2 linked regions of the Homo sapiens genome follow. The protein of the gene in region 2 purifies or fractionates together with the protein of the main gene of each other region. This does not show direct contact. Each region holds a gene or a part of one and is shown on either strand. Other genes may lie near its edges.

Evidence for each region. Proteins that work in one complex are often made in the same cells at the same time.
Region 1: the proteins of CLDN1 (region 2) and USP40 purify together in Homo sapiens (affinity purification with western blotting; one study listed by BioGRID). This does not show direct contact.

Annotation. Positions count from the first base shown.
Region 1 is NC_000002.12:233,560,283-233,563,782, forward strand, and holds part of USP40 (ubiquitin carboxyl-terminal hydrolase 40), read right to left. Parts: intron 2,522-3,500; coding exon 2,454-2,521; intron 985-2,453; exon of another isoform or gene 878-984; intron 752-877; coding exon of another isoform or gene 722-751; exon of another isoform or gene 461-721; intron 1-460. UniProt on the Homo sapiens protein: May be catalytically inactive.
Region 2 is NC_000003.12:190,312,447-190,315,946, forward strand, and holds part of CLDN1 (claudin-1), read right to left. Parts: intron 2,614-3,500; exon of another isoform or gene 2,447-2,613; intron 591-2,446; coding exon 426-590; intron 1-425.

The DNA of each region.
Region 1 (3,500 bases), on a different chromosome or scaffold from region 2:
GAAATTTTCCAGGCACAATACTGTATCTCGCTCTGGAGTTCTCAGCACACCCTGCCTCACTTTCTCCTGGCTCCAAGTGAGTTCCTGCCTTACTTGATGTGGTGAGGGCTGGGGCAGACTGAGCAATGTTGCTCAGAGTCTGGTCTGTAGGCTAGACTTTAAGTATTTAAAGGAGAATAAGCATTTAGAAATTGTAATGGCAATTTGACATTCCCATGGCATTTTTATTATATACTAGAAAAGTGCTAATCTGCAACAGATTGGGAATAAAAAGAAATACACAAAAACAGGTCCTTTGCCACACAGGTAGCCTGAGAAGTACTGGGCTAGATCATGAAAGACTCCTAAGAAGTACAAATTTGAGCCTGAACATGGTAAGAAACTTTTGAGTTATGTTTAAGCAGGGAGGAACATGATTAGATATGCACTTTAAATATCACCACAATAACAAACAAAATAATTAACTCATTACTCAATTTATTTCCAGAGTACCAAATTGAAAGAATACTAGCCTCTATTTTTTTTTGTGTGGGGTGGAGAGGTCGGTATTGTTGCAAAAAAAGTGCTTTAAATAGACTTCTGGGGGAAGCTAATGTGGATGTTCTGCAAATATTTCCTTCACCAGAAGAAAGAATAAGCATAGTAAAGAGTGTTACATGTTTATAAAGCAGTAGCAGTATTGTACTTGGAAAACTGATTCTTTCTCGGAAGGCAAATTCCATTACCCATAGGGTATAGGCCAAGTCACTTTCTGGAAATAAAGAGCATATTTGATAATTAATAAAATTATTGCTTTGTGAACAAGCCACTTAATTCCTTCTTTAAAAAAAATTTTCTGAATACGCTAAAACACCCCAGTAAATCATAGATGTAATACCTTTGCATCGGGTTTATCCTTATCTTCAAACAAACCAAGCTCTTCTGGGCCAAGAGAAAATAAAGTTCATATGGAACCAAAAAAGAGCCCGCATCGCCAAGTCAATCCTAAGCCAAAAGAACAAAGCTGGAGGCATCACACTACCTGACTTCAAACTATACTACAAGGGTACAGTAACCAAAACAGCATGGTACTGGTACCAAAACAGAGATATAGATCAATGCAACAGAACAGAGCCCTCACAAATAATGCCACATATCTACAACTATCTGATCTTTGACAAACCTGAGAAAAACAAGCAATGGGGAAAGGATTCCCTATTTAATAAATGGTGCTGGGAAAACTGGCTAGCCATATGTAGAAAGCTGAAACTGGATCCCTTCCTTACACCTTATACAAAAATCAATTCAAGATGGATTAAAGACTTAAACGTTAGACCTAAAACCATAAAAACCCTAGAAGAAAACCTAGGCATTACCATTCAGGACATACGCATGGGTAAGGACTTCATGTCTAAAACACCAAAAGCAATGGCAACCAAAGACAAAATTGACAAATGGGATCTAATTAAACTAAAGAGCTTCTGCACAGCAAAAGAAACTACCATCAGAGTGAACAGGCAACCTACAAAATGGGAGAAAATTTTCGCAACCTACTCATCTGACAAAAGGGCTAATATCCAGAATCTACAATGAACTCAAACAAATTTACAAGAAAAAAACAAACAACCCCATCAAAAAGTGGGCGAAGGACATGAACAGACACTTCTCAAAAGAAGACATTTATGCAGCCAAAAAACACATGAAAAAATGCTCATCATCACTGGCCATCAGAGAAATGCAAATCAAAACCACAATGAGATACCACCTCACACCAGTTAGAATGGCAATCATTAAAAAGTCAGGAAACAACAGGTGCTGGAGAGGATGTGGAGAAATAGGAACACTTTTACACTGTTGGTGGGACTGTAGTTCAACCATTGTGGAAGTCAGTGTGGCGATTCCTCAGGGATCTAGAACTAGAAATACCATTTGACCCAGCCATCCCATTACTGGGTATATACCCAAAGGACTATAAATCATGCTGCTATAAAGACACATGCACACGTATGTTTATTGTGGCATTATTCACAATAGCAAAGACTTGGAACCAACCCAAATGTCCAACAATGATAGACTGGATTAAGAAACTGTGGCACATATACACCATGGAATACTATGCAGCCATAAAAAATGATGAGTTCATGTCCTTTGTAGGGACATGGATGAAATTGGAAATCATCATTCTCAGTAAACTATCGCAAGAACAAAAAACCAAACACCACATATTCTCACTCGTAGGTGGGAATTGAACAATGAGAACACATGGACACAGGAAGGGGAACATCACACTCTGGGGACTGTTGTGGGTTGGGGGGAGGGGGGAGGGATAGCATTGGGAGGTATACCTAATGCTAGATGATGAGTTAGTGGGTGCAGCGCACCAGCATGGCACATGTATACATATGTAACTAACCTGCACATTGTGCACATGTACCCTAAAACTTAAAGTATAATAATAATAATAATAAAAATACCTTTGCATCGGGTTTATCCTTATCTTCAAACAAACCAAGCTCTTCTGGGCCAAGAGAAAATAGAGCTTCTAAAGAAAAAGGTAGAATCAGAGATGCAAATGACATCATTTCATTTTAAAAAATTGTTTTAGAAAGCCAAGACCACCTTTAAGTAAAATCAAGTAGATTCAGAAATATGATTGTGGCAATATTTATACCTTACTCTATACACTTTACTTTCTTGTAACATTTTTAACCAGTGACTCTAAGAAAATAGTGTCATGCTAAGGCTTCAGCATTTCCTAATTCTAGGAAAGGAAAATAATCTTTATGCATAAAACTAAAAACAGTAACATCAGAAATCTTTCATGGCTTCCCACTGTCTATGGCATCAGGTCCCAAAAGCCCAAGAATCTCAGGAAATACAGTAGTGTTGCAGTTTTCCTGCCACATGTAAGGCTAACAAACATCCTTTCGTGGGAAGGATCCTCTTTTACTCTGAGATGCCCTTTTTTTTGGTGTGAAAATGTCTTTTCCGTGTTGAAGGTAATAACAGATGGCAGTGGTCTTATCTGGAAAAAGAAGTTGGCAACCCCATGCGAGTCTCCAGAATTTCTTTATCACCCAACATCTAGGTGATGTGCCACCCAATGGGGCATACCTGAATCTTTTGAGAAGTCTGTATCCGAGCCTAGGTAGGAACTCTTACTGGGAAACTCTGATATACTCTAGGGATACAAGGAATGGGATAAATGTGTCTCCCTATTGAAAAACTATTGCTACCCTAGTGCTTACTGTTAATGAATGTTATATTCTTTCTAAGTGCTGGGACTCGGCAAAAATGAACTACAAATCTACAAGTTAAAGCATAAAACCATACAAAAACTTTTATAATAATCTCCCAGTACTCTCAGCTACATTGTAATGGAGTACAATGGAACCCAATGTAGCCCTATTATTTAAAATACTATTCCAAAATTTCCCCCGCCAGTTCTCTGACAGTCCTTATTCTTTCCAAATTATACCTCCCTGTCAGTCACCATCAGGATTCAGGCTAAGCTATACAAG
Region 2 (3,500 bases):
TCCAATAATCCCAATCCTTCCATCCCTCACAGACCTGAAGGGTTCACATATTCTTGTGTTTTCTCTCACTACTCCCCATCTTTTCCACATAGTATCTGTGGAGACACCATAGGAATTATCTGAATTACATGAACTTCCTCCTTAGCGTTTGCTAAATAGTGAACAACTTTCTTCACTGGAAGAGACTGGTTCTAACAAACCAGTTGCCACTTGAAACTTCAACCAATAGACCTGTCAGATGTGAGCAGAGCTCTCACATTTTCATTTAGTTTGTGTTTGAGAACATGAAAGTCAACTGGACTTCAGGTCTATGTTTGCAGTTTGCCTTAGAGACTGAAATCAAGTATAATGAATCCAACGTAATAGATTTCAAATCATACCAGGAACAGGTTAGTAAGGTGAAAGGGGGGCACAGCCTCTATTACCTGCAAGAAGAAATATCGCACCCCCAATGACAGCCATCCTCATCTTCTGCACCTCATCGTCTTCCAAGCACTTCATACACTTCATGCCAACGGTGGCCACAAAGATTGCTATCACTCCCAGGAGGATGCCAACCACCATCAAGGCACGGGTTGCTTGCAATGTGCCTGGCAGAAAACATTTTAAAACATGTAAAAATATGCTTGGACCAACAAGAGAAAAATGGAAGAAGACCAAGTATATGTCACTGTTGTATGGAAGAGAGAAAACTGGACTAGGAATCTAGAGACCCCAGTCATACTGATGTTTCCGCTGGTAACCCAATATACAGTATCTTCTCCAGAAAAACAAATGCCAGGCTGGATGATGAAAAAGAGATCCCTCCACTCCAATATTTTATGTTTCCAACATTAAATTCAAAATCAACTGGAAAATTAATTAATGATCTAATTGAATAGGGTTAGCTGAACTAATACATATTTATTTTTTACTAAGGGATTTTCATCCTTGCTAAGATAATTTTAATTTTAAGTAACAATCATATATACTATCCTGGATGTTAACTATTTGTAATCAAAATGGTTTACAGTATATCTTTGATATTAGTCACCAGCTTTACACCCCAATCAATAAGCTTCAGAAAAACTGGATGAATTGGAAGATAAAAAATAAATGTTTTATAGATTATCATGGCTGGATAAGCAGTATTTGTATCTCCAGTGATGTGAATAGGAGGAGTGGGGAAGAATATAGAAGTCATTTTCTTAAAACTAAACAAAATAACCTTTGAGATGTTACCTTGGGACATAGTAGTAGATTCATATTCAAAGACATCACTAGTTTTTTAAAACTATTTAAGCTGCCATGTTGTAAAATAGCACACACAATAATTCAATGTAGTGTTTCTCAGGATTCCATTTTTTCTAATTTCCCATCATTATTTTTGGTGTACTAACTCATGATCAAATAAACAGGGTCAAGTTTGAGACATTATCACTATGTTTCTTAAAGAGTAAAAACTTGATGCCATCATTGTGGCATAAAGGCACAGATTTTTAAATATGAACTGAAACTATGCTGGTTAGAAGATTTTGTTTAAATTCTAGATTTATGTCCTCCTTTAATTAAAGATCACTATATCATTGACAGTGATAATATGTGACAAGTGTTTTTTGCATATATAAGTATTTTTTAGCTTTAACAAACTGTGCTATCTTGAGCAAGAAACTTAGTATTGTTTGGAATAATATTTCAATTATATAAGTAAAATGTAAATTATATCTTTATCCAGTGGATTGGAACAATTGACTCCTTGATGGTCTTTAAAAGTGGCTGAGATGTTGGAAAGGTTTTGTATCTCAATATCTAATCAGGCCTAGGCTTAGTGTTAATATTGTCAAGATTGAGAACTTAGGTCACCAATCATAATTGAAGCTAAATATTTCTAAAACTTCATTAAATCTTGATTTACTGATTTTCTGTCTTTGCTATAACCAGGCAATCTATGATAAAATTATAGTAATCTCTTTATTTTTCTTTTTTTGAGATAGAGTCTTGCTCTGTTGCCCAGGCTGGAGTGCAGTGGTGCGATATGGGCTCACTGCAACCTCTGCCTCTGGGGCTCAAGCGATTCTCATCCCACAGCCTCCTGAGTAGCTGGGACTGCAGGCACGAACCACCATGCCTGGCTAAATTTTTTTTTTTTTTTGGTATTTAGTAGAGATGGGTTTCACCATGTTGCCCAGGATGGTCTCAAATTCCTGAGTTCAGGTGGTCTGCCCACCTCGGCCTCCCAAAGTTCTGGGATTACAGACGTGAGCCACTACGCCTGGCCATAATCTCTTTCTAAAAAGTATCAAAGGTATTGTTTACAGTATTTGAGAGATATTTTTGAAGCCAAGGTTAAGTTTTACTTGATTTCATTTAAAAATAAAAAAGAGACTTCCTGATTCCCCTCACACACTGACCTCCTCATAAGCATGTATGGGCACACATGCACACTGACCCACACACTTATCTCAAGATTCCAGGTGGCAGAGGAACTGCTGGATCAAAACACATGTTCCACGGACCACAGGTTTACCAGGAAGGAACTGAAGCTGCTTGTAAGGTTATTACACAACTTTTTCCTTGGAATCACAAGCCATACTGTGGTATGAAGAGGAAAGTACCAAGGGCTCCATGGTTAAGGTATGTCCTCTTTCTGATGGATGGTTTTTGCAAAGGCTATCATTATTGGGAAATAACAAATAAAATAACTAAACCCATACATAACACAGATTTCAGATGTGGTCCTAAGATTACACTTGGCAGGAAAATATTTCAGGCAGAGATATGCCTGAAGAGGAGATGCTGAAAGTAACAAAGATGATCCATGTCTGGAGGATAGGGAAACCACATATCTCAGTTTGCCTGGAACAGTCCTAGCTTTAAAGTTTAAAGTCCTACATCCTTAGAAGGCTCTCAATCCTGAACAAATTGGGAGAGCTGGTCATCCTAACGCAGGATGATAGGATGTGCAAAGTAAAACGAAGTTTAGCAAGGTGGGCAGAAGGCATATGTCATGCAGAACTTCGCAAATTAGGGTAAGAAGATGGATTCTATTCTAAGTATAATCAGAAGTCATATGATTATCTTGAGAAAGGGGCGACATGATTTTTACTGTCAGCATAGAGATCACACAATCAATAAATATTTCTATGACAGCACTTCAAGCATCTATAGCATCTTACATTTCACAGCCTCCTCCATTTTATTTTTTCATAAATACTCTTTTTCAACCTTTTATTAATCATTTTAGATGTTTTCTCTGATCTTGCTCCAAGTTTTTCTCTTTGTTCAAGTTGTGGGGCCCCAAACTGGACCAGTTTATAGAATAATCACACTGATCTTTTCTTCAAGTAAAAACAGAAGGTCACTTGCCCAGCAGGTCTGAGCACTTAGATCGCAGAGTAGTCTTCAAGAGAAGTCTAACTGGGCATCAATCTCATGAGTCGGACTGTGTAAAACCCCTGATCTCCCAGGCAAGGAACACATGTGCATAAACTACTCCAGGGCCCTTACTGCACCCACCTGGA